Regions from separate parts of the Homo sapiens genome. Here all the other regions are reported to be linked to region 1. The links are microRNA targets in miRTarBase. Many come from high-throughput screens and were not tested one by one. Region 1 holds a microRNA gene; each other region holds the end of a gene's coding sequence. Distances are from middle to middle.
What was found. The annotated mature microRNA hsa-miR-6873-5p reads CAGAGGGAAUACAGAGGGCAAU and lies in region 1 at 1,599-1,620, shown strand. An mRNA with a match to its seed (bases 2 to 7 or 8) in the 3' UTR can be bound and repressed. Matches are read on the target gene's strand: a 7mer-m8 pairs with bases 2 to 8, a 7mer-A1 pairs with bases 2 to 7 and ends in A, and an 8mer does both.

Region 2: miRTarBase lists MYH14 as a target of hsa-miR-6873-5p. Seed matches in the 3' UTR shown: 7mer-m8 at 3,223-3,229, 7mer-m8 at 3,189-3,195 and 7mer-m8 at 2,922-2,928.
Region 3: miRTarBase lists HAP1 as a target of hsa-miR-6873-5p. Seed matches in the 3' UTR shown: 7mer-A1 at 1,193-1,199 and 7mer-m8 at 2,110-2,116.
Region 4: the mRNA of NRG4 is a reported target of hsa-miR-6873-5p. Seed matches in the 3' UTR shown: 7mer-m8 at 2,878-2,884.
Region 5: miRTarBase lists PERP as a target of hsa-miR-6873-5p. The part of its 3' UTR that is shown has no 7-base or 8-base seed match.
Region 6: the mRNA of UCP2 is a reported target of hsa-miR-6873-5p. Seed matches in the 3' UTR shown: 7mer-m8 at 1,089-1,095 and 7mer-m8 at 1,134-1,140.
Region 7: the mRNA of PSMD11 is a reported target of hsa-miR-6873-5p. Seed matches in the 3' UTR shown: 7mer-m8 at 2,762-2,768 and 7mer-A1 at 4,139-4,145.

What each region holds. Positions count from the first base shown.
Region 1 is chr6:33,284,362-33,288,882 of GRCh38, reverse strand. It overlaps MIR6873 (microRNA 6873), which reads left to right and starts at 1,594; the gene lies at 1,594-1,656. It overlaps WDR46 (WD repeat domain 46), which reads left to right. Exons shown (of 15, transcript NM_005452.6): 2 at 1-79; 3 at 189-269; 4 at 413-525; 5 at 648-735; 6 at 857-918; 7 at 1,165-1,269; 8 at 1,378-1,528; 9 at 1,657-1,792; 10 at 1,989-2,088. RefSeq lists enhancers at 1-49, 584-1,117, 1,118-1,651.
Region 2 is chr19:50,308,870-50,313,390 of GRCh38, reverse strand. It overlaps MYH14 (myosin heavy chain 14), which reads right to left. Exons shown (of 43, transcript NM_001145809.2): 42 at 4,214-4,386; 43 at 2,851-3,751. The coding sequence ends at 3,601. KCNC3 (potassium voltage-gated channel subfamily C member 3) reads left to right here. Exons shown (of 5, transcript NM_004977.3): 5 at 1-1,454. Among named protein-coding and RNA genes, the nearest start is that of KCNC3, 18 kb to the left of the region's middle. RefSeq lists an enhancer at 1-286.
Region 3 is chr17:41,722,015-41,725,014 of GRCh38, reverse strand. It overlaps HAP1 (huntingtin associated protein 1), which reads left to right. Exons shown (of 11, transcript NM_177977.3): 11 at 1-2,375. The coding sequence ends at 314. Among named protein-coding and RNA genes, the nearest start is that of HAP1, 11 kb to the left of the region's middle. RefSeq lists an enhancer at 1-222.
Region 4 is chr15:75,940,523-75,945,043 of GRCh38, reverse strand. NRG4 (neuregulin 4) reads left to right here. Exons shown (of 6, transcript NM_138573.4): 6 at 1,390-4,108. The coding sequence ends at 1,406. It overlaps FBXO22 (F-box protein 22), which reads right to left. Exons shown (of 7, transcript NM_147188.3): 7 at 2,533-4,521. Among named protein-coding and RNA genes, the nearest start is that of FBXO22, 39 kb to the right of the region's middle.
Region 5 is chr6:138,089,425-138,092,424 of GRCh38, forward strand. It overlaps PERP (p53 apoptosis effector related to PMP22), which reads right to left. Exons shown (of 3, transcript NM_022121.5): 3 at 1-2,844. The coding sequence ends at 2,618. Among named protein-coding and RNA genes, the nearest start is that of PERP, 16 kb to the right of the region's middle.
Region 6 is chr11:73,971,474-73,975,994 of GRCh38, reverse strand. It overlaps UCP2 (uncoupling protein 2), which reads left to right. Exons shown (of 8, transcript NM_003355.3): 7 at 324-504; 8 at 874-1,323. The coding sequence ends at 988. Among named protein-coding and RNA genes, the nearest start is that of UCP2, 9.1 kb to the left of the region's middle. RefSeq lists an enhancer at 1,617-1,706.
Region 7 is chr17:32,478,950-32,483,470 of GRCh38, forward strand. It overlaps PSMD11 (proteasome 26S subunit, non-ATPase 11), which reads left to right. Exons shown (of 14, transcript NM_002815.4): 10 at 302-427; 11 at 902-937; 12 at 1,197-1,248; 13 at 1,540-1,682; 14 at 1,804-4,370. The coding sequence ends at 1,682. Among named protein-coding and RNA genes, the nearest start is that of CDK5R1, 5.8 kb to the right of the region's middle.

The DNA of each region.
Region 1 (4,521 bases):
TCGGATCTCTAAGAAGCCTCAGGTCCCGAAGAAACCCCGAGAATGGAAGAACCCGGAGTCCCAGCGCGGCTTGTCCGGGGTGAGCGTGGGACCTGATGGGTGGCGAGGCAGGCCGCCTCGTTCCTTGAGAGTGAGAGGGTTGGGGTCAATCCAAGGCTGTCTGCTAATTGCGTCCTCCTTTCCCCTAGACCCAAGATCCATTCCCAGGCCCCGCCCCCGTCCCTGTGGAAGTGGTCCAGAAGTTCTGTCGCATTGACAAATCCCGAAAGGTGAGGTCCAGCCGGAGAGTTGGGAAGTGCTGGAGGCAGGGAGTGTCTGGGTGAGTTGGATGGAGGCTGGGACAGGTAGCTCTCCTGTGACCCCACTTATCCTGTGGTTCTTCTGCCACTCCTCCCCACCAACAATGTTACAGCTACCACATTCTAAAGCCAAAACTCGAAGCCGACTTGAGGTGGCTGAAGCTGAGGAAGAGGAAACAAGTATCAAAGCTGCTCGTTCTGAGCTGCTGCTTGCTGAAGAACCTGGGTGAGTGAGCCCTAATCTGGACCCCCATTCCCTGCCTTTTGGGACTGTCTTTTCTCGTTTTTATGTTGGTATACTTGCTTCATATTGGGAAGCTTTACTGCCATCCTAACCCTTGCTTTCAGGTTTCTGGAAGGGGAGGATGGGGAAGACACAGCAAAGATATGCCAGGCTGACATTGTGGAGGCTGTGGACATTGCAAGTGCAGCCAAGGTGAGCCTGAGGAGGTAAAGGAGCCAAGGGATTGATTGGTGGTGCAGGACAATAGAGGAATGGGGGCTAGAAGAAGGCGTTACTGCAGGGCACTCTTTTTTTTCACTCTTCTCTTTCCCAGCACTTTGACTTGAATCTGCGGCAGTTTGGACCCTACAGACTAAACTACTCTCGAACTGGAAGGTAAGGTTGAATTCTAGTGACTCTTGAACTAAGATGTGTTTCCTTAACCACTTCAGCCATTCCCAGTGTATGTTTGGGTTGCTGATGAGGGGAGGGTCCTTCGATTTGCTTGGGTGTGAGGGTAAGCACCTACAGCAACATGTGTCTGCCCGCCTGGAGAGATGGGGCTGGCGTGGGGCAGACCTCAAGTTGTCTGAGTCGGTGGTCCCCTGCCTTAACACCCTGCCTGCCCCTCACCTCCAACAGACACCTGGCTTTTGGAGGGCGCCGAGGTCATGTGGCTGCCCTTGATTGGGTAACAAAGAAGCTTATGTGCGAGATCAACGTCATGGAGGCGGTGCGGGACATCCGGTCAGTGGCCTCACTGTCAGCGGTCAGTTGGGGTGAGATAGTCCATTCCTGATTGAATGATAGCCTGTGACCTCATTTCCCAATTGAACCACTCTTCCTCTCCCCCAGGTTTCTCCATTCTGAGGCACTGCTTGCTGTTGCTCAGAACCGCTGGCTCCACATCTATGACAATCAGGGCATTGAGCTCCACTGTATCCGCCGCTGTGACCGAGTAACACGGCTTGAGTTCCTGCCCTTCCACTTCCTCCTGGCTACAGCTGTGAGTGGCCATGGAGCTCAGGAACTGGTTGGAAGCCCTTGGGATGACCACCTCTCCTTTAGGACCCCAGCAGAGGGAATACAGAGGGCAATCAGGACTGGGTCATTCTCTCTGTCTTTCTCTCTCAGTCAGAAACAGGGTTTCTAACCTACCTGGATGTGTCAGTGGGGAAGATTGTGGCAGCTCTGAATGCTCGAGCTGGGCGGCTCGATGTTATGAGTCAGAACCCTTACAATGCCGTCATCCATCTCGGACACAGCAATGGTCAGTACCTGGCTTAGTTTTGACTCTGACCATCCTGACTTGCTTTTCTTCTATATTTGTACTTCATGAGTCCCTTAAAGTTACCCTTTTATTTCCCTTTTTTGTTATCTCTTGGTCTTGAGTTCCCATCTTTCCCATGTTTAGTAACCTCAGGCTTAGGTGTGTATTAGCAACTTTGGTTCTTCTTCTCTTCCAGGTACTGTGTCTTTATGGAGTCCAGCTATGAAGGAGCCACTGGCAAAGATTCTCTGTCATCGTGGTGGGGTCCGGGCTGTGGCAGTAGATTCTACAGGCACGTAAGTCACTGGTGGGGTGAGGTGTTAGGAGTCATAGGTGGGCAGAAAGGTGTGGAAGGCAGTGTGCTTTAGGAGCACAGAGTCTAAAGCCAGGATGCCCAGGTTTAAATCGCAGTGTTACCACGGATGGGCCTTGCAAGTATAGGCATATTTCATAACCTCTGTGTGCCACAGTTTCCTGACCCCGAAAATGGAAATATGAGTGTCCATTTCAAGGGTCCACAAACTTTTTCTGTAAAGAGTCAGATAGTAAATATTTTATGATTTGCTGATAAGAGGTAAAATCAAAGGGTACCATGTAGGCATTTAAATACCAAGAGAAAACAAATTATCACAACTTTTTTTTTTGAGATGGAGTCTCGCTCTGACACCCAGGCTGGAGTGCAATGGCGCAATCTCAGCTCACTGCAACCTCCACCTCTCAGGTTCAAGTGATTCTCCTGCCTTGGCCTCTCGAGTATCTGGGACTACAGGCGCCTGCTACAACACCTGGCTAATTTTTGTATTTTTAGTAGAGACAGGGTTTCAGCATGTTGTTCAGGCTGGTCTCGAATTCCTGACCTCAAGTGATCTGCCCGCCTCAGCCTCCCAAAGTGCTGGGATTATAGGCGTGAGCCACTGCGCCTGACCTTTTTTTTTTTAAATCTTTTGAGAGAGACGTAGTCTTGCTCTGTCTCCCAGGTTGGAGTGCAGTGGCGTGATCTCGGCTCACTGCAACCTCCGCCTCCCAGATTCAAGCGATTCTCCTGCCTCAGTCTCCCAAGTAGCTGGGATTACAGGCACCTGCCATCATGCCCAGCTAATTTTGTATTTTTTTGTAGAGACGGGGTTTTACTGTGTTGGCCAGGCTGGTCTTGAACTCCTGACCTCAGATGATCTGCCCGCCTCGGCCTCCCAAAGTGTTGGGATTACAGGCGTGAGCCACTGCGCCTGGCCCACACATTTTTAGGTTATAAAATTAAACGTAATATGGCCAGGTGCGGTGGCTCACGCCTGTAATCCCAGCACTTTGGAGGCCAAGGCGGGTGGATCGCCTGAGGTCAGGAGTTTGAGACCAGCCTGGCCAACATGGCGAAACTCTGTCTCTACTAAAAATTCACAAAATTAGCCGGGTGTCGTGGCGGGGGCCTGTAATTCCGGCAACTTGGGAGGCTGAGGCAGGAGAATTGCTTGAACCTGGGAGGCAGGGGTTGCAGTGAGCCAAGACTGTGCCATTGCACTCCAACCTGGGCAACAAGAGCAAAACTCCGTCTCAAAAACAAACAAACAAACAAAACATAATATGAGACTGGACACAGTGGCTCATGCCTGTAATCTTAACAGTTTGGTAGGCTGAGGTGGGCAGATCACTTGAGCCCAGAAGTTCGAAACAAGCCATGTCACCCATGACATGGCAAAACTCTGTCTCTACAGAAGATAGAAAAATTAGCCGGGTGTGGTGGTGCATGCCTGTAGTCCCAGCTACTCAGGAGGCTGAGGTGATCCTCCCACCTCAGCCCAGGAGGTTAAGGCTGCAGTGAGCTGTGATCATGCCACTGCACTCTAGCATGGGCAACAGAGTGAGACCCGGTCTCAGAAAAAAAAAATAATAATAATCAAATATATTTGTGTAATACAGATCTACTAATGGGAAGAACTGAATTTCTCTTTTTGAGGTTAACATTTTGCCTAATTGATGTACAAAGTTAGTGTTCCAGATGGTCAAATTTGACTGTAGATATTCATGTTCATGCTGATCTGTAGAGATTGCAAGTATTTCATCTTTGAAAACATCTTTTCACACAGGTAATGATAGGTGATATGTGAGGTGCTTGAAATGCTGTGAAGCACTTACGACTGTGTCACTGTGACTTGTAGTGTACAAAGCAGCAGTGCAAATCAGGATGCTGTAGTCGCTGTCGTGACCACTCGGCTGTGTGTTGTAGAGCAAAAGCAGCCACAGTATTAAGTAAATAGTGTGGCCCCGTTCCAATAAAACTTTATTTGTTGGATATTGGAATTTGAATTTCATACGGTTTTCACAGTCTCAAAATATTCTTTTGATTTTTTTTCAACCACTTAAAAATGTAAAAACCATTCTTGGCTTGTGGGCTATACAGAACTAGATGATGGGCCAGGTTTGGCCCATGGGCAGTAGTTTACCAAGCCTTGGTTTAAAGCCCTCATATAAGCTGTTGTAGACATTAAGATGAGTTAAGGCATATAGTTTAGCACAGCGCTTAGCAAAATAGGGAGCGCTGTGTTCATCATTGTCATTCAAGATGATCGTTCTCTCCAGGTCTGGCTGATGTGAGGGGTGGAGGTGGTGTCTGCTTTGGATTTCTGCTGTTCCTGAGGGAGTATCTGCATTTTCCACAGCTTTTCTGTCTGATTTGTATTTTCCTCTGATTCCTTTTGTCATCAGGTATTCACTGGGCACCTGCTGTGGGCAGG
Region 2 (4,521 bases), not on the chromosome of region 1:
AGTGCAGGCATCGCTGCTTGGCTAGGACACGGTTTATTTAGGTTAAGAGTGTTTCCATTTAAAGTAGTCCACAGATGATCACAGAGGCTGTTCCCGAAGGGAGGAACACTGGAGTATCAGAAGATTGGGAACCGACAACACCCAGCTCGGCTGGGATCCCAGCCCCCCTTCCCCAGCGGTCCTCACCGCGTCACGCTCGCGGGTGGAAAATCATTTCCCACCTCCTATCCTGGCTCAAGGATGCGCTACCTCCCCCAAGCCCAGAGACCACACCGGTCCCAGACTCTTTAGCGGACCCCCCTTTTGGAGCCGGGGTCCCACGGAATTAGCCACCTCCCTCCCTCTGCTCCCACGGCCTCAGGAACCCCCCACCCGAGGGTGGATGGGGGGCGTCACTGAGCACGATTCTCGATGCAACGATTCCTATGCAAGGGGCATTTTGAGTCCCCCCCATCCTTCCCTCGGACCCTAAACCCTGGTGAAGCAGGGGTGAGGGGTGGGGCGGGTTTTGGTGGGGGCGGGGCAAAGGGCTAGGGGCTCCAGACACCAGGGTACGGGGTGGGGACTGATTATATTGCCAAAGGGTTCAACTTCTTTAACAAGCCCCCCCGTTTCCCCTGACCTTCACGAAAGCCGAAGGAGGCGGGGAAAGGGGGTGAGGGTCTTTTCCAAAGGGTACTGACCTCTTCCCAACGTCTCCCCCTGCTCGCCAGTCCGCCACACGTACCCAGCTTTTGAGTTCAGCTTTTCAAAATAACCACAATCATGATAAACTTCTACAAAACGTGATTCTCCTCCCCTCCCACCCCATCCCCCAAGTCAATAGTGTGGGATTCGGGGAGGGAGAGAGCGAGCTAAAGGGACTCTTTCCAAGTCCGGCTCCCCCTTTTCCCCCCGGCCGCCAGGGTGCCTGCACCTACACGCATGCGCTGCATGACGCGCCCCCCACACGCATGTCGCACCCCTCCTGCGCTCCGGGAACGCACGGACACGGGCCAGGGGGCGGGGCGATTGGGGAGGAATGAATGGCGGGGGGTCTTCCTGAGCTCCGCGGCTCACCCTCCCCAACACACACACACACACACACAGAGCAATAAGTTTCTCTCACTCAAATGTGGGCGGGGCGGGCCTAGCCTGTCGCTGGTGGGGGGAGTGGTGAGGGGGCGCTCTCAGGGATGGGGGCGGGGTTCGGAGACAGTGTGGGGAGGGGAGGTCTGCAAATCGTCCAACTCTGGTGCTAATGGCGGGTCTTCTCAGCCCACCCGCAGGGCAGGGAGGGAGGGGTCGGCGTGGCCCCTTCCCCAAGCCTCCCCCACGCCCACCCTGGGTGCATGAACCGCCCAATGCAGAAGCTGCCGCATGTCACCCCCCTCTCCCCAAAGAAAAAGTGTCATGCCCCCTTCCCACCCACCCTCACTCCCCACCAAAATAAACGTTTCCTTTTCATTTAAAAATGGCCTCCTGTGTGCCTGTTCGGAAAGTCTCCTGATTGCGGCTGGGGCGCACAGAGGGATTGGGACTTCTAGAGTGGGGCCCTATTGCTGGGCACAGTGGCTCAGGCCAGTAATCCAAGCACTTTGGGAGGCCAAGGACGCAGGAAGATCGCTTGAGGCCAGGAGTTCAAGACCAGGCTGGGCAACACAAGAGAGACCCTGTCTTTACAAAAAATAAAATAAAATTAGCCAGGTGTGGTGGCATCTGTAGTCCCAGCTACTCTGGAGGCTGAGGCGAGAGGATCGCTTGAGCCTGGGAGGTCGAGGCTGCAGGGAGCTATGATTGTGCCACCGCACTCCAGCCTGGGTGACAGAGTGAGACCCTTTCTCAATTTTTTAAAAAAGGGGAGGATGGGCTTTGGTGATCGTGACATCTGCTCCACGGCTTGCACCTTATTTAGGGCAAGCACCTGCCTCAGTTTCCCTGATAGTAAAAATGGGGATCCACACCTCTAACTGAAAAGTCACTGAGGACTCAGTCTGACGAACGTGAGCCCCCACACGAGGGTGCCTAGTTCCCACGAGAGAGACAGACCTGGGTCCCCAAGGTGGGGTCAGGGGCTGAGGGCTCAGCCTCTATATGTGCTGACTCTGAGGCCAGACTGTCTGGGTTCAAACTGTTTCAACTTCTTAGTAGCTGTGTGTCCTTGGGCAAGTCACTCAGCCTCTCTGAGCCTGTTTCCACCACTCTAAAAGGGTGGGAGGGGCATCACTTAGTTATTCAGCAAATATTGAGTGAATGCCTGCTGTGTGCCAGACACTGTTCTAGGCACTGGAGTGCAATGAAATCTCTACCTGTAGTGCTATGTAAGGGTTAAGATAAACTGTGTGCTTAGCACAGCACGCAGCACAAACGACCACGGCTGTCTTTTTGTTTTGTTTTGCTTTTGGGACAGGATCTCACTCTTCACCCATGCTACAGTGCAGTGATGCAATCATAGCTCACTGCAGCCTCCACCCCCTGGGCTCAAGTGATCCTCCCACCTCAGCCTCCCGAAGCACTGGGATCACAGGTATGAGCCACTGCAGCAGGCCTGTCATTTATTTTGCAAAACTTAAGAGTTGGCCCGAGTGCAACACCCCTTCTAGCACTCACTGGGGGCGTGGAGTGAGGGATGCTGCTGCTCTGAGACTGTTCCCTCATCTGTATAATGCAGGGAATATTTCCATTATACACTGGAGTCAGGAGGAAAGGAGTTATGAAGCGCCTGATCCACAGGATGTCCCTGTATACCCACGCAGGTGTCATTCTAACCAGCAGGCTGCCTGACCTGCTGCCCTAGCAGGCTGAAGCAGCCTGTGCCCATCCTGCCCCATCAGAGACCCCCTGCAGGAACACACACAGCCACAGAGATGGTCCAGTCGGGTTGGAGTTTATTTCTGCCAGAGCCTGGAGGCTGGGAGGGTAAAGGACACTCCTTTAGTCCCAGAGGGAAGCTCCGAACCCTCAGAGCAACCAGAAGGGAGGGCAGAGCATGGGCAGCAGCAGGAGTGAGAGGGGTCCCCTTGTCCTGCCCCTTTGCAAGGGTTCAAGGCTGGTGGAGGCCTGGGGCTTCTGTCGCTCAGGAGTTCAGGGGTGGACGCAGAAATGGGGGAAGGAGAGTGGCTACGTAGAGAGTGAGAGCGAGATTCCTAAAAAGATGCACAGAGAGACCCTCAGAGAGGCCAAGAAAGATGGTGAGAGGGTAGGGAAGGAGAGGGAGGGAGAGAGAGAGAGAGAGAGAGAAGCAGAGGGAATGGGTTGCACTGGCTGAGGATGGTGGAGGAGCCGTCTCACTCCCTTCCTAATGTCTATAGATCAATAACGAGGGAAGAAAGGAGGACAGGGAGCTGATGGAAACACAGCTTGCCAACTGTACCCAGTCCCCCAACAAGCAAGGTAGCTCCAGTCATTGCCTCCCTGCCTGCCCCGCTCCTCTGTGTTTAGGGGTCATCCTTTGATGGGAGGTTGCAGGGGACCCAGGTGGGGGTGATAAATGCCAGAGTGCTGCACCATTTCCAAAGGGCAAGAAGTCAGAGGGCGGGGTTCCTGGGACAGGGGCCCGTGGGGTCCAGGGAGGAAGGGGGCTGGGCCCCATCTGTTAGTGCATCTGGGGACAGGGTAGGGTCACTGGGGGTGGGCTGGTGGGGACCCCTCAGGCTCCGGGGATGGCCCAGACCCAGGCTGTGCTTCCTCTGCCTCCTCGTCGGATGCCACGCCCTCCTCTAGTCGGAAGACCTGGCGCACCGTGCGGGTGGTGAAGGTGAGGGGGCCGCGTCTGTGGGGAGGAGAGACCAGGATACAGAGATGAAATGAGGGGAGGGGAGGGGAGGAGAAAGGGGGAGGAGAGAGAGAGATGAGGGGGAGAGAGAGAGAGATAGGAAGAGAGAGAACAAAATAAGGGGGAAGAGAGGGATGAGATCAAGAGAAATGGAGGGAGACGGGCAGAAGCAATGGGGGGCAGAGAGAGATGAAGGACACACAGAGAGGAGGAAAGGAGAGAAAGGTGGTGGTGCACGGTGGGAAAGGAGGGCACAGAGATGACAGGGAGAAATGGGTGTGGGAAGAAAGAAGTTACCTGGATTTGGCTCTCCCGCAACACAGCCGCTGCTCCCACAGCCCCACACCCCCGTGGATCCCATTTCCCCCTGTTGTTGCCCCTGGCACGGCCTCGCGTCCCTGGGGTTTATGGAGTTAGGGTGCTCCCCACCCGTCAGGCCTGTACGTGGGATGACCATACCGAAGCCGGTTCCTCAGTGTGGTCACTTCACGGTTCATGGACTCGGCCGACTCTGTGACATCTTCCAGCTCACGCTGCAGCCTCCGGCGGCCGGCCTGAGCCCGGGATGCCTCCTCCTCGGCCTCCTCCAGCTGCCGCTTCAGCTGCTTGACTCGAAGGTTTCCCTTCTCCAGCTTGATGGAAGCAGGGGGACTGGGTTATATCTCCAGGTACTGTCATCACTCCCTCCCTCTCCAACAGCCCACTACTGCCCCATCCCTACTGCCCCCTGACTCTCTCTGCCCCATCCTCTGCTCTCTGTTTAGGCC
Region 3 (3,000 bases), not on the chromosome of region 1:
CTGCCAAGAAGGTGCCGGCTGAGGAAGGGGTGATGGAAGAGGCAGAGCTGGTGTCAGAGGAGACCGAGGGCTGGGAGGAGGTGGAACTGGAGCTGGATGAGGCAACGCGGATGAACGTGGTGACATCAGCCCTGGAGGCCAGCGGCTTGGGCCCTTCACACCTGGACATGAATTATGTCCTCCAGCAGCTGGCCAACTGGCAAGATGCCCATTACAGGCGGCAGCTGAGGTGGAAGATGCTCCAGAAAGGTGAGTGCCCCCACGGGGCCCTCCCTGCCGCCAGCCGGACAAGCTGCAGATCGTCGTGCCGATGAAAAGAGAGGGTGGATAAGCTCCCCGAGTGCTCACCTGCCCCAGCCTGGCTCTACCTGCTGTGCTTATTTGCATGGACTTTGCATATCATTTGCATAGACACCTCTGATCCCCTTCAGTGGGAACCGTAGTGTCAGTGCTCATTTATGTGGCATTTGCTTAGGATTCCAGATCTCCATCCACTTTTCTCCTGGGGGCTGGGCTGGGGGTTAGGGCTGGGACTGTGCCCCCACACTGCGCCTCAGCTTCCCATCTCTGCCCGCTTGCTTCCCCTGCCCCCAACCCCTGCCTCCTCTATCCCCCAGGCTCTCCAACTCTGCAGCAGTGGCAGCAGCAGTCAAAACAAACACGGGGGGCGGTGGGTGGGATGGTGGAGCAGCCCGGGGGCTGACCCAGGCTGGAGGACAGGGCCAGCCACCCTCCCACGGCCTGGGAGGAAGAGAGGCCTTCTGGGACTGCCCAGGCTATGGGGACAAAGGCCTTCACCAGCAAGGGCCACAGTTGGAACAGTCCCCTGGGTGTCAGAAGGTGGGCTAGGGCCTCCTGCAGGGTTGTGGGGTGGAACAGGGTCTCCTCTCCCCAGCCAGAAACCCCAAAGTCTGGGAGCTGCACCTTCCGAGTGCAGGCCATGTGAGCCCTGCCTCTTTAAGGAGCCGCAGGACATGAAAGATGACCTTGTGACACTCATGCACAGCAGCCATTGCACGTGCATCAGCTCCCATCAGCCTCATTCCGTGGCAGGTGATGTGTCCCCATTGGTTAGGTGAGGAGGGTGAGGCTCAGAGAGCTAAGGACACTTGTTTGGGGCCACACAGCCGGGGTAGATCTGAGCCCGTCCTCTCTACTCCTGTGCTGTAGCACCTTCACTGGCCCATCCCTCCCCTCTAGTGCTGTCCTGGTACCCGTCCCAGCCTGTCCCCATTCTCATGGCCCTTTGGTCACTGCCGGGTGGAATAGCACTGGCTTCAGCAGGCGTGTCATGTAAGCTTGTGCAGGTTATAAACTGAACCATGACCTTTATGGCGCATGCAGGGGGCAACCTGCATAATTATCAATGGCGACTTTCCGTGTCCTTCTGATACAGTTGATCAGACCCCTGCCCACCGCCCAGGCCAGGCCTGTGGTCATCAATGCCCCAGTTCACATCCACCTGCTTCTCTTCCAGGCTTTGCTGTTCCCCAGCAGCCTGCAGAGGCCCCACAGACAGCTTGAGGCCCCTCCTTCTGCTGCCTGGCCAAGCCCCACACCCGCAGACCCTCCTTCCCATCCTCTGAAATGGGACCCTGTGTCTGTCACCAGCCCACCCTCTGTGTTCATGAACCTGGGCTGGAGCTTGGGGACCCCTCCCTGCCCCTGGCTTCCTCTTCCATGTTCTGCCCTTTCCCACATGTTGGAGGCTTTTCCAACGTCTTCAGGGACAGGCGGTAGGAACCCCGGCCCTCGCTCTGCAGCTGGTGCAAAAGCTGTGGCTGCCAGGTCTGGGCCACATGGCAGCCCAGGGGGCAGGAGAAGCCCGGGAGAGGCCCACTGGCTACCAGACTCAGCCCTGAGCAGGGAACAGGGCCCAGCTTCCACCGGCAGGGAGTTGTGAGCGCCTTCCCAACAATGTGCCCCTCACCCCTTGATGCCCATGCTAATGGTAGCCACCCTGGTTCTTGTTGACTTGAGGGACCTGGCTGTCTTCCCTGTTCTTCATCCTTTCTTCTCAGTCCCTACCTACTGTTTGTAACCACAAGTGTCTCTGTGTGTGGGTGGGTGAGGGCCCCTCTGCCCAGTGGTGTGTCTCCTCTCCCTCCCTCCCTCTTCTGCCAGTGGCCTGGGGGTGTCCAGGCTCCCATCCGTGGCCCAGCCCCTCTCCCCTCTGTCTTGATCCCCCCCTCCCTGCCCCTGGCTTCCTCTTCCATGTTCTGCCCTTTCCCACACCTTTGTTCCTCAATAGCTGGGGGCTGGGACTGAGGCCTCCTGCAGGTACCTGCCCCCCTTCACACAGCACCTCTCAATCTCCTATTGCTTGTCAGCCTGTGTGCGTGTGGTGCAGGAAATAAAGGATCTATACCCTCCTGGCCCAGCCTCCAGCTGTCTCTCTAGGGAGTGTGTGTGTGCACTTGGCAGGGCGAAGTTGTAGAGAAAGGGTGGATGCTAATATTGAAGTATGTGCCGAGGACTCCTATTAAATACGCCGTTTAATCATAGCAGCAGCTCCTAGAGGGCGGTGGGTGATGTCATAAGTGTCTGTTGGATGGAGAAACTCAGGCCAGAGTAGGTTAAGTGATGCCCTCACCAGCAGATCATGGCTAGTGTGGAGCTGGGATTTGAGCTCATGCTTCCCTGATCCTTTCACCCCAGAGACTGACTCAGTGGCCTGGCTGTGAAAGATAGGATGGGAGAGAGTCACCCACTGTCTTAGGGTGAAGTCCCCAGAGCAGACCTGGAACAGGGTTTAGGAACAAGTATAGTCGCCCTCCGTATCCTCAGGCTCTGCATCCGTGGAGTCAACTAACCACAGATAGAAAATATTTGGGGGAGGCTGGGTGCAGTGGCTCATGCCTGTAATCCTAGCACTTTGGGAGGCCGAGGTGGGTGGATCATTTGAGGTCAGGAGTTCGAGACCAGCCTGGCCAACATGGTGAAACCCCGTCTCCACTAAAAATACAAAAATTAGCTGGGCGTGGTGGTGGGTGCCTGTAA
Region 4 (4,521 bases), not on the chromosome of region 1:
TCAGTGACATGGTAAGGACTTATTTTTTAGAATCCACACACATATAAAACAGCTTGACTTTATAAAGACATACTTGTTAAAAAAAAAAGTATTAAAAAAAGTATTAAATTACTGTTGTTTTTTTGTAAGAAAAAGACATCATAACAAAGGTTAAAAACAGGGGTAAGGTATTAGGCTCAGCTGACAAAATTAGTTCATTTGACCGTTTTTTCAAGGTTGAACAATCTCAGTCAATAACTGCAACACCATAACTATAAGCAAATAACCACCCCCCCACACACACACACAAAAGCCTTTTACTAAATGTGACAAGATATGTCATGAAAATAAAGTTAGATTCTCTGATGAGGAGAGCCGATTATGAAGACTGGGACTTGCTTAATAATGTTAGCTCATATTATGAAAATCATAGCATAAAGGTACATTATATTTTTAAAACTTATTAATGACCTTCCTTCACCAAGGATGTCCTCCTGCCACCACACCATCAAGCCTTACTTCATCGATAGGTTTATTCATGTCGCCTTGTGTGCTTCTGGAATGTAAGCCTCCCCGGGCAATCTTTCCAATGTATTCCTAGCATAAATCCACAGCCTGAAGTCTTAGCATGCATTTATATTGTTGTTAGACACCATCCCTACTGCAATAATGCCCTAATGCTGACAACACAACTCTCCAAATGGAAAGCAGTGTAACAGTATGATCATGCACACCACATGCCTGTGTGCCAGGTACTATGGTTAATATTTCAAATATTTTAACTCCTATAAACCTTAACAACTGTATGGAGTAGGTGGTATTATTCTCACTCTACAATGAGAAAACTGAGGTTTAGGGAGGTTAAACCCATGTTTTTCTTACTGCATTTCCACAGATATGGGTGTTAGTCTCAGGACTTGCTGGCTACAGAGGGAATTTTTGTCTCTAAATAGTCCCAATTAGCCACAGGTTTTATTAGTCCTTGTTTCCTTGGTATTTTCTTGCCATCTATTATTGTCATTGCTGTTACAGTGACTCACTCTAGCAATCTTTTCCCCTCAACCACCCTTTTCTAACTTGTATATCTAAGACAGGTCACCAGGCTTGTTAGAACTTTGGGTAAGAGGCAGTGAGCAAAGACAGTGAGGGGCGGGGGGTGTGGGCAGGCATGCAGGGAACTTTATATGTGAGACTTGAATGGGGAATCTGACAGAACTCAGTGTTCTGAGGAGTCTTGTCAGGCTGCTGGAAATTTTTGATATTCTAGGTTAGTTTACCTCAACACATCCTATCACAAACAGAAGGGGTTGGCTTATATATGTGAAGAAGATAAGAGACATGTAGATAGGTGTGCGTAGTAAGAAACATTGCAATGGAGAAAGCATCTTAATTCTTACTTATTTTTCACAGGTCATGAACAACACTGAAGAAACGTCAAAGTGAACCAAATCATTGTTTTTATTTTACAAAGGCAGAAAATGAAACACCACTAGGTAAAAGAATTAAAAATCTAATCCTTTATTTCTTAAATAAAACGCTTGTGTAACTCGTATCATGAACCATAATCCATTCTGCTGCAAGGTGTGTGTGCTTCTGTAATGTGCATCAGTCCATCGGCAACTGCTAAGTAGGGGGTGATACCAGTATAATTCGAAGTCACATTGGTTCAACATGACTCTCCCCAGAAAGCTGATGTGCTGAAGCAACCAGAGGCAAATGTTCACACACCTAGAGAGAAACCCTAAGGGATATATGAAGATCTTATGAAAAAGGATGAAAACCCTTTAAATGCAAGGAGTAGCTGGCTTAGTGGCTTCAAAACCACCTCATTCCTGCTGTTATCTGAGAAGCTGCAAGTACTGATGAAAAAACTGAGAAGACATTTCACCTGGCAATTAGAAAAAAGCGCTGACTGATAGATACCTCTGTATCATTCTTTCAATATTGATGAAAATGCTTTCTACTAGAAGTGACTGATTTCAAGGATCTGTCTCTCAAAGGAAGAAACAAAAACCCAAAATTTTGACTGCAAAAGATTGACTAATTCTAGGTGCAAGTAACTGGAAATTTAGGATTGTTATTGTACTACACAGGTCACAAAGTTCCAAACCTATTTCCCTTGTAATTTTTAGTGCATGATTTTTCAGAATGCAGTTTCTATCTTTTTAGGTGCAATATTAAGAACTGATTAGGTCAGAACAATTTAGTTTCTCCAGTTTTTTCTACCTAAGTTACATGGGGGAAAAAAAAGCAATAGTAACTTTAAGGAAGTATGAAAATAAAGTCTTGGAGCAGTGGAAAGGTCTGGGGCTGGTAAATGGCTTAGGCAGAAGGGCATGCACCGGCCAAACCTAACAGCCTGTCTCTGAACTATGTCCTCGTCAAGGCTGGGATGCACGCTGGCTTCTCTACACAGTCTGGCCCAGTGTAAGTGCTGTGAATTCAGTGGGTCACTAGTGTCACCAATTCATTCATCACCCATCATTCACTCATTTCACAAACACATGAGGGTAAGACATTGAGACAGAGTACACAAAATGAAAAGCTCTCACATAATTTTAATAGACTTTATTAGAAGTTTTAGATTTTCAGAAAAACTGAGCAGATAGTATAGAGTTCCCCTATGCTTCCCCCCACCCCAGGCCTTTATTATTAACATCTTGCACTAGTGTGGTATATTTGTTTAACCAATATTGACACATTTTTACTTTACTTTTTGAGACAAAGTCTCACTCTGTCATCCAGGCTAGCTGAAGCCTGTAATTTACATGAAGGGTCCTCTTTTTGTTGTATGTCTTTATGGATTTTGACCAATATATAATGTCATGTATCCACTATTATAGTATTGTATACAGTAGTTTCACCACCCTAAAAATCTCTACTCCATGTATTTACCCCTCCCTCTCTCCCACTGAACCTCTGGCAACCAGTCTTTACTAACTTTGCTTTCTCCAGAATGTCATATATTTGAAATCATGTAGTATGTAGCCTTTCAGACTAACTTCTTTCACTTAGCAATATACACTTAAAGTTCCTCTATGTCTTGTGACTAAATACCCCACCCCCTGCCCTTTTTAAAAAAAAAAAAAAAAGCTAGGCCATATTTTTTTTTTTTTTTTTTTTTGGTGGTTTAAAAATTTACTGTGGCAAAATGTACGTAAGATTTAAATTTTAACCATTTTGAAGTTACAGTTTAAAGGCATTAAATACATTCGTTGTATGTACCAGTCACCACTATGCACCTCCGGAACTTTTTCATGATCCCACACTAATCTCTGTGCCCCTTAAACAATAAATTCCCATTCCCTCCTGCTCCCTGTGACAAAACGTAATCTTTGTTCTACTTTGTCTCTATGAATCTCACTAGTCTAGGTACCTCACATCAGTGGATTCATATAGTATTGTCCTTTTGTGATTTACTTAATGTCTGAAAGGTTCATCCATGATGTAGTATGTAGAAGGATTTCCTTTTTATGGCTGAATAATATTCCATTGTATGGATATAACACATTTTGTCTATCCATTCATCTGTTGGGTATTTGGGTTGTTTCTACCTTTTGACTACGGTGAATAATGCTGCAGTGAACACTGGTATACAAATATACCCTCAAGCCTCCGCTTTCAATTATTTTGTGTATATACCCAGAAATGCAATTGCTGAATCAAATGACAATTCTATATTTAATTGGAAAATCACCATACTGTTTTCTACAGCAGCTGCATACCACTATATTTCCATCAGTAATAAGAGTTCCAATTTCTCCACATCCTTGCCAACACTTGTGTGTTTTTTTAATTTTAATAAGAGCTATCCCAGTGGGTATGAAGTGGTATCTCAATGTGGTTTTGATTTGCATTTCCTTACTGTTTAGTGATGCTAAGCATTTTTTCCTGTGCTCACTGGCTATCTGCATGTCCTCTCTGGAGATCTATCCAAATCCTTTGCCATTTTTTAAATCAGGTTTTTACACTGTTGTTGCATTTTGGGAGTTTTGTATGTATTCTGGATGTTTAATCCTTATTAGGTACGTGAACTGCATATTATTTCCTCCCACTCCATAGGTAATCTTTTTACTCTGTTGATAGTGTTCTTTGATGCACAAAATTTTAATGAAGTATAATTTGCCTATTTTTTCTTTCGTTGTCTGTGAATTTGGTGTCATATCCAAGAAACCACTGCCACATCCTAAGAGTTTTATGGTTTTAGCTCTCACATTTAGGTCTTTGGTCCATTTTGAGTTAATTTTTGCAAATGAGTGAGGTTGCAACTTTGTTAGTTAGCCATGTGGTTATCCAGCTTTCCCATCATTATTTGTTGAAAAAACTATCCTTGGAATAGCCTTGGCACCCTTGTCAAAAATCATTTACCTACATATGAGAGGGTTTATTTCTAGGTTCTCCAGTCTATCCCATTGGTCTATCCGTCTGCCTTTATGCCAGAATCACATTGTTTTGATTACTGTAGCATTATAGTAAGTTTTAAACTCTGCAGGTTTAAGTCCTCCAATTTGTTCTTCTTTCTCAAGACTGACTTGGCTATTT
Region 5 (3,000 bases), 100 Mb from region 1:
GAAAGACCTTGATATATTACTTCTTTGTTACAATCAGCAGTAAGTGCCACTTAGCATGTCTGGCTACTTACAGAGTGAAATAATTGCTTAGGAACCTAGAACTGCTTATTTAAAGGGTGGGAACTCAATATTTAATTACTGAACCAAAAAGCACCTCAGCTTTACTGTGGGAAATCTCATGCAATGCACTGTTAGCCTTCAGGTGGTTTCTCAGCCCAATTCTTCATTACTCTCCAGAATCCTCTGGAACTTCCCTTCTGTTATGACATAAAGGTATCTGTCTTGGTGAATCTGGATCAACAAGGAATGGCAGATCTCTATACTAGAACAAGGCTGAAGGAAGCAGACCATTTCTGCAAAATAAGAGTTTATCTTTGTCATAAATACTTTAGGTTGACATGGTTCTATTATATCAGGCTCGTTGGTCCCAGGAGGTTGCATTTTTCCTAAATGTGCGCCGTTAAGGTATTGTGTGATTGAGGAGGGGAAGAAGGCTGGATGGGAAATCATGCAAAGACAAGTGCATGTGGTAGAGAAGCTTATAAACGGAGTCATTTTCATGTTTAACAGGAGACCACGTTTCTTAATCTCTAGATATCCAGTATCTTCTTGAATGAGCTGTGGTATCACTTTAAAAGATGGGATTTTTAACATTTTTAATGACCACTTCAAATTCTCCACCAGCCACGGCATAGTTGTGTGGGTTTTTCTTTTCAATTTTGGTATAATCACCCAGATTACATTTCTCTATGAGAAACATTCACCTCGCATTTTGAAAAGCATAGAAAAATTCACTGCCAAGGACTAGCTGGCCAACAGTAGCCCTAGGGAGATATATTTCCGTTCTCCCACCCAGCCTCTCTGCACCCATCCTCACAATGACATACACCATAGTGGAAGTAACATATGACTTATGGTGGGAAAAAAAATAACAAATGATAAAATGGGAAGGAGGGCAAGGGGAAAATAGAGAGACTGCTACCCCACCACCTGAATGGAAGGGGACCCCAGCACAAGGAGGAGGCTTCAGCTACACTGCACACATGTCCCCCGGGTGTCTGAACCTGCCAGAAATCTCTTAGTCCATTTTCCTCTGGTTGATAGCACTGCAGAGAAATTGTTTAATGTGTGTCTAGGGTATTGTTCATTGAGGAAAAGTTCAGGGAATAGACTATTAGAATTCATTAATCTCCACTCAAAAATTGGTTTTGGACACCTAAAATGAGCAAGGCCCTTAAAACTTCAAACAAAAAAACAAACAAAAACCACTTTTCATTATATCCCATGTTCTTATTACCCATTTTTTTTTTAATTCCTTTCCCCAGATTTGAAAAATGGAAAAACTACAAACTGGAAACAAGTTTAGAATACCTGGTTTATTGGGAAAACTTCATAATGAAAACTACAATTAGCTTTTTCCACAACTTACAAAATAATAATCTGATATTTAAAATGAATTGGTTTTCATTATGTAAGTCGAAATGGTAAAAAATCATAATGACCTATCCGATGCATCATATATATGCTATTCAGAGAAACTCAAATCCCCGAATTCTCCTGTGGCATGTTTTATATCAGACATTTAAAATCTGTTTACCAAGAAAGACCAGGATTTTAACTATATGTAGGTTTCTGCTTACAGTTGCAAACTATCAGAAGCCTGTCTATATGATAGAGCCCAGATAAACCTGAGATTTAGAAAAGCAAGTCATTTATTCTCCTGAGGCTGTTTTAGTGGCACTTTTGTGACAAGAATGACCCTCCTAATGCTTTACTACACAACTTAACCAGATCTATCAGTCATGATAAATTAGACCCAGTCCATCTTTCAATCCAGTCTACTCTGGTTCTGAACATATAAACACAAAACACTACAGATTTATTAATATAGCATTTTCCCACACCCTAACCCTATAAAGAACTTTAAAAGAGAAAATTTCATCTAAATATTTCACACTTAAAGGAAAGCCTTACCAACTATGGCAACAGGTTTGGACCATGAAATAGTACTTTCCTAGATGACATATCGAGTCAACATGAAGCCTTAGCTAAAATGAATGATTCAGGATATTAATGAGAAATTCTCACAAATGATATGCATTTAGGAAATGATTTTGCTTTCCTTAAATAGTTCGAAGGCTTGAAAATAAACTTTTTTTTTGCATTTCTTTTAGAATGTTTGGTCATTAACAACTTTTAACCTTATCTTCCTCTTCTCCTTAGCCCTTAACAGACCGAGTCCATTCTATTTGGAAATAACAAGAACTTGATCAGATTATTAAATCTTGGAAACCTCATTTTTACCTTATAAAGTGTTAAGTTTCACGTGCATATTCTCTTACAAATGTAGTATAAATGTTATGGATAGATATAAGGAAATATTGGCATAGTATAGGTAATTAGTGAAAAGACACAACTTCACAAAACATAATAAAAGATAAACATGAAACTATAACACTACTTAAAAAATATTTTCTCCCAAATTATTTTAGCATTTTTGACTAGTTTAATAATATGAACACTGCCAAAAAATGGGTTCAAAGTCGCCTGGAGAAACAGTTTCTTCTTCTGGAGTCCATCTCAGCAGCAGCGATTTTCTCCCACATTCATTCCCAAGTTAGGCAGATGTGTAGAAGTACCTGGGCTTGGCATTGCCCAGAAGGTCATCTTCGTAGTTGGGGAGGCAGCAGAAGAAGAAGGCACAGCCAATCAGGATAATCGTGGCTGCCCACCCAAAGCCGTAGGCCCAGTTATAGATGTAAGTGACAGCAGGGTTGGCATGAAGGGTGAAGGTCTGGGTGTACTTCACGGGGTAAATTACCAGGGAGATGATCTGGAACACAGCTAAAGGGAAGAAAAAAATCCCAGGGTATGAATGCATACATGCATGAAGGAATAAATACACATTAGCGACAGATTACCTCCTTCCACCAAGTTTCTGCCTTGAAATAAGTATAAAATCTACCTGGAGGCAGGAGGAATCTGGTTAGGCAGAGGCCA
Region 6 (4,521 bases), not on the chromosome of region 1:
TCCCTGACTCAAGCAATCCTCCCACCTCAGCCTCCTGAGTAGCTGGGGCTGACTACAGGCATGCACACTGTGCCTGGCTAATTTTTGTATTTTGTAGAGACAGGGTTTTTGCCATGTTACCCAGTCTGGTCTTGAACTCCTGGGCTCAAGTGATCCACCCACCTCGGCCTCCAAAAGAAGTCCTGGATTACAGGCATGAGACATTGTGCCCAGCCTCTCTGTCTCTTTAAAATCATGAAAACTCGTAGCTACTTAAGTAATTCTCCTGCCTTCTGGAATGATGGGTGAAGATCTTGACTGCCTTGCCTGCTCCTCCTTGGCAGATGACCTCCCTTGCCACTTCACTTCTGCCTTTGGGGCAGGCTTCTGCACCACTGTCATCGCCTCCCCTGTAGACGTGGTCAAGACGAGATACATGAACTCTGCCCTGGGCCAGTACAGTAGCGCTGGCCACTGTGCCCTTACCATGCTCCAGAAGGAGGGGCCCCGAGCCTTCTACAAAGGGTGAGCCTCTGGTCCTCCCCACCCAGTTCAGGCCTCTTGGCTATGCATGTCTATTGTGGGTGGGAGAGAACCACCTGGAAGTGAGTAGCAGCCAAGTGTGACTATTTCTGATCCTGGTCCTGGCATTTCACCAGCATTCACCTATCCCCTTAATTCCTTCCTCCCAGAATTGCTACCATCACTGTTTATTAGGTGTTAAATGGAGACTCAAAGGGAATTCATGCTTATAGCCAAGCAGCTGTGAGCTCAGTTCATTGAGTCCTCCCAGCCTCCTTTGGGACAGAGCAACTGGGTTGGATTGAATACCAGGCCCAGTGAGGGAAGTGGGAGGTGGAGGTGCCCCCATGACCTGTGATTTTTCTCCTCTAGGTTCATGCCCTCCTTTCTCCGCTTGGGTTCCTGGAACGTGGTGATGTTCGTCACCTATGAGCAGCTGAAACGAGCCCTCATGGCTGCCTGCACTTCCCGAGAGGCTCCCTTCTGAGCCTCTCCTGCTGCTGACCTGATCACCTCTGGCTTTGTCTCTAGCCGGGCCATGCTTTCCTTTTCTTCCTTCTTTCTCTTCCCTCCTTCCCTTCTCTCCTTCCCTCTTTCCCCACCTCTTCCTTCCGCTCCTTTACCTACCACCTTCCCTCTTTCTACATTCTCATCTACTCATTGTCTCAGTGCTGGTGGAGTTGACATTTGACAGTGTGGGAGGCCTCGTACCAGCCAGGATCCCAAGCGTCCCGTCCCTTGGAAAGTTCAGCCAGAATCTTCGTCCTGCCCCCGACAGCCCAGCCTAGCCCACTTGTCATCCATAAAGCAAGCTCAACCTTGGCGTCTCCTCCCTCTCTTGTAGCTCTTACCAGAGGTCTTGGTCCAATGGCCTTTTTGGTACCTGGTGGGCAGGGGAGGAACCACCTGACTTTGAAAATGGGTGTGATCCACCTTCCACCTCCAGCATCCAATCTGAAGCCCGTGTAGGTCATCTGGTCCATTTCTCTCTAGACCCAGGCCCTGTACTAACATGGGGAGTGCAGGAGCCACCTGAGAGACAGCAGTGCCTCCCCTTCCTTTGCCGGGCCACTTGAGCTCTTACTCAGAATCTGGTACTCTAGTGCCTGCCATCCCAACCCCCCACCCCAGCCGCAGGCCTGTTTATCTGCACAACAAGAGTGCTCCTGTGTGCCCTGCATCTCCTGCAGTTCCAGAGGAACATGAGACTCTTAGATGCTGTTGACTTTATTTTATTCCATTTTACAAATGGAAGGAAGACCCACCTCCCCCAAAGTCCCAGACCTTGTGAGAACAAGTCAGTCAGCCTCCTTCCACCCTCCACAGCCACAGCCACACCCACAGAGGAAATGTTACTGAACTGGGTGGAGCAGGCCCTGACTCCACAGAGGGTGGGTGGAGGCTGCAGGGCAAACATCTGGTCTCTGCCTGAGGATACTTTCCATTTGTGTTTTTTGTTGTTTTGAGACAGAGTCTCACTTGCTGTCACCCAGGCTGGAGTGCAGTGGTGCAATCTTGGCTCACTGCAACCTCTCCCAGGTTCAGGCGATTCTCCTGCCTCAGCCTCCCAAGTAGCTGGGATTACAGGCATACACCATCATACCTGGCTAATTTTTGTGTTTTTGGTAGAAACGGGGTTTTGCCATGTTGGCCAGGCTGGTCTCAAACTCCTGACCTCAAGTGATCCACCTACCTCAGCCTCCCAAAGTGCTGGGATTACAGGCATGAGCCACTGTGCCTGGCCAGGATATTTTCCATTTGGAGTCTCACCACCACAACCCCCCTCCACCTGCCCCTGCCCCAGCTAGGCATCCAAGGAGGCCGCAAGAAGCCAGGGCCTTGGCTGCACAGGGGTCTCCGCTTCTCTGTCCCTGTTCTTATCACCTGCACTCAGAGGCAGGTGGGCAGGGGTACTACAATTTCAAGGAGTGGAGACTGTGAGGTCCTGGAATCCCAAGGCATCTCCTGTAGGGCTGGGCCCTTAGAATTATGTCACTCAGACCCAGTTTGTAGGTGTCTGAAGAAACTGAGGCCTGACACAGGTGATGCAGGCAAGAACACCCAGAAAGTCCACTACTGAACTGGGACCGGGACCCAGTCCTCCTTCCCCTTGTGGACTCCCCCAGAGACCAGTGCTGGGGTCCTTGGGGAAGCCTGTTTGGCAGCTGTGGAGCTAGGCCCTGAGAACACGACCACCCTCCCTCTTCCCTCAGCCTCAAGCCGCTGAAGCCACTGCTGCTTCGCCGCCTCGTAAGCCCAATGGTCAGAGCTGGAGGCTAGACCCTTCAGTGCTTGGGTTGAGGGCCAGGGTGTTAGATTGGTTTTTGGAGAAGGAACGAGGGCCCAGGATTCTTCAGCTTCTTAGTTTTTGACAAATTGAGCTGAGGCCCCATAGTCCTCGGGAGGGACAGGGTTGAGTGCCATAAGTCGGCAAACCAGGGTAAAGGTGACAGGCAGCTCAGCCAGGCTGCAGGGGGTGGCATATACAGAGGACCTGGCCACTACTTTATGTACCTTCTTACACTAATTCTGTGAGGCAGGCTGTTTGTTAGCTCTGCTCTGGACGGGAAGAAGTAGGGGCAGTTTGGTAGGTGTGTGTCAAAGCTAAACAGGCTGGGTGGGCATGAGCAAGTCAGCTGGTTCATTCAGCAGCCTTAATAGACACGAGGCTACCCAACTTCACTGTGGTTCTGGGTGTGGCCTTAGGACAATGAGCTGGGAACAGTGGTAGGAACCACTGGAAAACATACCAGTGGGTCTCATTCATTCTGATCACAGGTAGATCACTTCTCTTTGGTTCCCAACCCTTTAATGCCTATTAAGTGGGCAGATGATAAGCCCTGCTTTGCCTAATTCAAGGTAACACTGAAGATCACTAAGGTAATAGGAATCTCCTAAGGGACTTTCAGGCCCAAGACCCAGGCTTCCTTCAAGATAAGGAGTAGGCTTTCCTGCTGCCCTACAGGAGACCTAGAGTTGAAGAATTTCACAGCCCTGCCTCTGCACTCCAATTCAGGGCTTGCCCTCAGAACAGGGCAGCTCTCACCATCCCACTCCACCTGAGTCCTGCCCCAGAGCATTTCATGCCTCACCATCTGGTTTCCATGAAAGGCCTGCAAGGTAGGGGCTGTAAGCTTTAAGAAACGGGTTCAGAGAGGTGAAGTGATTTGCCCAAAGGCACACAGCTGGCTAGTAGCACACTGGGGATCCAGAACAGGTGTGTCTGACTCCAAAGCCCACATGCTTTTAACTACTATGCTGAAATGCTTCCTGGAGCCCTGGTCCCAGAGTCTTCACCTCAAGGTCTTTGGGTAGCTGACTTCATGGTGATTTTTTTTTTAATTTTAAGATGGCGTCTCTTCTGTCGTGCAGGCTGGAGTGCAGTGGCAAGATCTCAGCTCACTGCAACCTCTGCCTCCTGGGTTCAAGTGATTCTCCTGCCTCAGCCTGCCAAGTAGCTGGGATTACAAGTGCATGCCACCATGCCCGGCTAATTTTTGTATTTTTAGTAGAGACAAAGTTTCACCATGTTGCCCAGGCTGGTCTTGAACTCCTGACCTTGTGATCCACCCGCCTCGGCCTCCCAAAGTGCTGGGATTACAGGCATGAGCCACCGCGCCCAGCCCATGGTGATTTTTTTAATGACAAAAGTGCTACTGAACCCCCGTTTTAAAAAAAAAACCTTAAGCTGATGTGATTTGAATGGTGGAGTCCCAAGCAATCTGGAGAACATGGGGCCTTTTCTGGCACCTCTGAAGGCATTCCATGGAATTGGCTACCTACTCCCCGTAAGCCTGGATCTATCCTCACCCAAGCTCAGACTCTAGAAGGGAACCTCCCTGGCATGGAAGGGGAGCATAACACACGTGTTGACTATGAGGAGGCAAGTGTGGTCTACGCAGGCCCAGTTGGACCTGGATGCTGGAACTCCAGGCCTTGAGGGCAGCAGTGCTGTTACCCCTTCCTGAATCTAAGCAGTGAGTTCACCAAGCACTTTCACATCAATGTTCTCTGTCCTCA
Region 7 (4,521 bases), not on the chromosome of region 1:
TTATTTTTAGAGATGGAGGCTCTCTGTGTTGCCCAAGCTGGACTTGAACTCTTGGGCTCCAGCAGTCCTCCCACATGAGCCTCCCGAGTGACTGGGACTCCAGGTGCGTGCCACCAAGCCAAACTTCCCTTTCAGTTCTTGACATTCCTTTTCTGCTTTGTATCATGCATCTCCCCAGATCTCCCCTAACTTCATTCAACCATGTAGTTTTATAAGGGCCAGCAGACTATCTAGGAAGCAGGAGTAGCATGACTTTAAAGTGATTCTCTGTGCCAATCTCTGCAACTGGTTCCTTTGGCAGGCTCTGACAGATTACCGGGCAGAGCTCCGGGATGACCCAATCATCAGCACACACTTGGCCAAGTTGTATGATAACTTACTAGAACAGAATCTGATCCGAGTCATTGAGCCTTTTTCCAGAGTACAGGTGAGAACCCTCTGGGGACTCCATTTCTGGCCAGGCATTCTCACTGTAGCCACCTCCCTTCCACACCTGTCCAGAATGGGAACTCACTTCTAGGGGTGTGCCTGGTGGGCAAGAGGCCACCAAGAGCTTGGGCCTCTGTTGATAAAATGAACAAAAATCGAGGAGAGAGATGCTGTGGGTAGAGGCATGTGGGTTGCCCCTGCATGTGTTCTGAGCAGTTTCCTCCTCGCTTTTAGTCACTGCATGTGTTGTACCTGTTTTCTGTATTGGGTGTGTGGGATAAGAGTCTGTTTATTGTGTGTAGCAGTGAAGGGCAGGCAGATGGGCAGAGAACAAGAGACTTAAGCACGGCCAAGGAGGGTCTTACATTAGAATTTTGAGAAATACAGCAGTTCTCCCCCTGTTCCCTCCCTTCTCTTATTGGAGGCAAAAGTAAAACTTTCAGTGTTGGTGTCTCTCTGCCTTTCCTTTTAGATTGAACACATATCTAGTCTCATCAAACTCTCCAAGGTAAGGAGTCTTAAGGCCATCTGCAGGGAGGAATGGGACGGGGTGGCGAGGAGGGGTGGCACATGCACCTGATTGGCCTCATTGGAAAGCTCCCCAGCTTCTCAGTGGGGAATGGGCAGTGTGGACTAGAGTAGGAGTTGCATTGTTGCTATTTTGTTTTCAGTCCATTTGGCCTAAGACCCCTCCAACAAAGCTACTGTGTCAGGGTGATCTCTGACTAGTGGATACTGGTCCCTTTAATCATGTGCTTTGATTTTAGGCCGACGTGGAAAGGAAATTATCACAGATGATTCTTGACAAGAAATTTCATGGTAAGTAACAGTCACACAGGCAAGGGGGCTGGTGGTGGTGATGAGATGGTTGAAGAAGTTTATTTTCAAAGAAGATGTTCTATTTGTTTCCCCCGATGGTTCACCCTGGGGTCCTGGCCCCTCTTCCCTGTGATGAGAATGTGTAATAAGCATGTGTACATGGAATAGGGAGATGAATTCTATTTCCCTTCTTTTCTGGACACAGTGAGTCAACTAGGGAGTGGGCTGCTTCACAAACACTTTTGTGTCTAACCTCATCTTTTACCTGGGTTGCCCTTGTGTTTCTTGCAGGGATTTTGGACCAGGGGGAGGGTGTCCTGATTATTTTCGATGAACCCCCAGTAGATAAAACTTACGAAGCTGCTCTGGAAACAATTCAGAACATGAGCAAAGTAGTGGATTCCCTCTACAACAAAGCCAAGAAACTGACATAGGTGAGTGCTGGCTTCAGGACCCCAGGGCTGGGCAGCTCTGTCTTCTGCGTGTCGAGACTGAAAACCTCCTCCTGGTGTCCTCATGGCTTCCTGATTGACACTGCTCTGTCTTCTCTTGCAGAGTTGGATCTGTAGCGGTCCTTTGGAGAGTGTGTGTGGCGGGAGAGTGAAACCTTGGGGGAAAATGCTAGGAGATTCTTTTTTCTTTTTGTTCTACTTTTCGCTCGGAAAGTTTTTAAATCCTCATTTGGTGCATCTGTATTCCAGCCAATAGGTGTGCCAGTTTTCATGTAATCTTTACTGGCCCAACTTGGGAGTGGGGAAATTGCTTAAAAAAAAAGAAAAAGAAAAAAAAAAAGATTATTCTAAATAAAAGGAAAAAGGCTTACACTACCTAAAGCTGTGCTCTCTGCCTCCTGGGAGAGGGCCGCAAAGCCAGGCACCCCGCCAACCACTGGGGGTCCTAATCCACCTGCTGGGCATCACCTCTCCTCCTCCTCAGAATTGGGTGTTTGCTGACCATCAAAAGCAATGACTTTTTATTCTGTTTGTACTGAACCAAAACAAACAACTGTGTATAGACTGCTGTTTTCTTTTTTATTTGAAATGAGGCATTTTGGTGTTCTTTCCCCTACCATACGGCCTGTCTGCCCTTCCCTCCCCACATTGGCTCCAGCAGAGTAGCCGAAGGTCCTGCCGCCGCCGCCACCACCACCACCACTGCAGCAACAACAGCAGCAGCAGCAGCAGCGCCTGCATAGCTCCACTCTGACCTGTGAAGGAATGGGGATGAGGCCAGGAGCTAGTGTCTACCACGGCCACACAGGGAGCAGTGTGGGCCCTTAGCCCCCAAGGGGCCTGCTATGCATGTGGCTTTTTTTTTTTTTTTAAACACAGTAAACTAGATTAGTCGTCAGTGTTTTAATTGCCCCTCTTCTCCTCTCCTGCATTCCTCTCCTCTCTTCTTTCCTCTCTGTCCCTTCTCTTTCCCCTCTCAACCAGGAGACCATCATGTCTCTCTGCCTTCCTCCTCTCCCCTCCAGGGGAGTCAGGCTGTCTGTGAAAGCCATGAGCTTCTCTCCCTCTCCCACTCCTCCTCTCCTACTTTCAGATGGATTTATTCCTTTTTTAAACAATGAACATCGGAAATGAGACTGTGGGGTGTGGTTTCTCTCTCTCTTTTTTTTTTAATTTTCTTTGTTGGGTTTTTGAGCAACCTCATGTCCCCTTCCCAGGGAGCTTTTTAATTTACCTCTTAGAACTCAAGTGGATGGGAAGTAGAGCACTATGTGTCAGTATGCTTTGTTTTCTGACACGATTACACAGCGAGGCTTTAATGCCATTTGGGTAGGTGAGCTTCTGCACTTCTGTTGTGCTGAACTGTATTTTCTTCTCTCATCTCCTCTTTGTCTTTTTCTCTTTTCCTCTCCTTCCTGCCTTCTTCTGCTGGCCTCCTTTTCTCTTTCTTTACCTTCCTTGGATTATCCTTCCAGGTTTTCATAATAAATTTATATTTTGTAAAAGGATTTTGTTGTACCAGGTTTTGCATCCTCACTGAATCTGACTGGCTTTTATTTTCCTCTCCAAAATCAGGTTTTTGTTCTCAACATCTTTCCCCATCATGTCTAGTCACTGTTTTGGTTTTGGCACCATCAGTATCAAATGTACAAACGGTTCTTGCTAACCAACACCAGGTATATCTGATGTTCAGATGAGTTCCAATAAAAATAATTTTTTTTTTTTTCAAAAGGTGTCTTTTTCTTGAGTGCTGGAGGGCTTCCAAGCAAGTCCAGACAGCTCTGTGTGGCCCCACACTAGTCTAGCTCTCATCTGGCCAAAGCTGTTATCTCATTTGTGTAATGGGAGTCCTTAAGGTAAATTTGGGGTCCAAACTTGGAGGGCTTTGGGGGCAAGAAAGTTGGTGTGTGAGTTCTGAGGTTGGAAATGAGTTCAGGTGTCTTCTTCCAGGGCAGCATGGTCCAGTGAGCACATGTAAGTTTGGGCAGTAGATCCTCTGAGCCTACTTTCTCTTCTACTCAGTGAGGATGCTGCTTCCTTGGCAGGTGATTGTGATGTGAAGCTTAGTAAGTCATAGACGTGCAGGTGTCTGGAGAGTCCTGACATGCAGTTGTGGTTTCGTTTCCTTTTGGAATCTTCAAAGGCAGCGATTTTCATATTGCCTCACACCCTGGCGGGGGCGGGGGGCTCTGGGACCACTGGGGGACCTGCTAAATCCTCTTCAGTCTGAGCAGTTCAGCCATTGTCAGTTTTAGTATTGTGTCTCTGTATTTCACTTGCAGAAAGAGCTTTGCTTCTATAAAGGACTTTAAAAAGTACTCCAAAGAGATCTAGTTTTGGAGTAGAGGGGAGATGTTTTCTCAAACTTAGGGCAGTCCTGAGATGCTCAGGCAGTAGCCCTTTTCTCAGTTCCCTTTGCGGGTCTTGGTCAGATGATGCCCTCTAGACCCGTGCTGTCCAATATGTAGCCGCTAGCCATGTGCAGCTGTCAGGCCCTTGCAACGTGGCTGGTTCGAGCTGTGATACACTGCAAGTGTAAACACAAACCAGACTTCGAAGGCTTAGTATGATAACAAAAGAAAAGGAGTGTAAAATATGTCAATAACTTTTTTATATATGTGTTGAAATATTTTGGGTATTGGGTTAAATAAAATATATTATTAAAATTCACCTGTTTCCCTTTTACTTGTGTAATGTGGCTGCTAGAAAATATAAAGTTACCTATGTGGCTTCTATCTGGACAGCGCAGCTCTAGACCTCCAGGACCAGCAGTTGTGTCACTGCCTCCTCTCCCAGGCCTCTCATGACCTGAGTCCAGGCA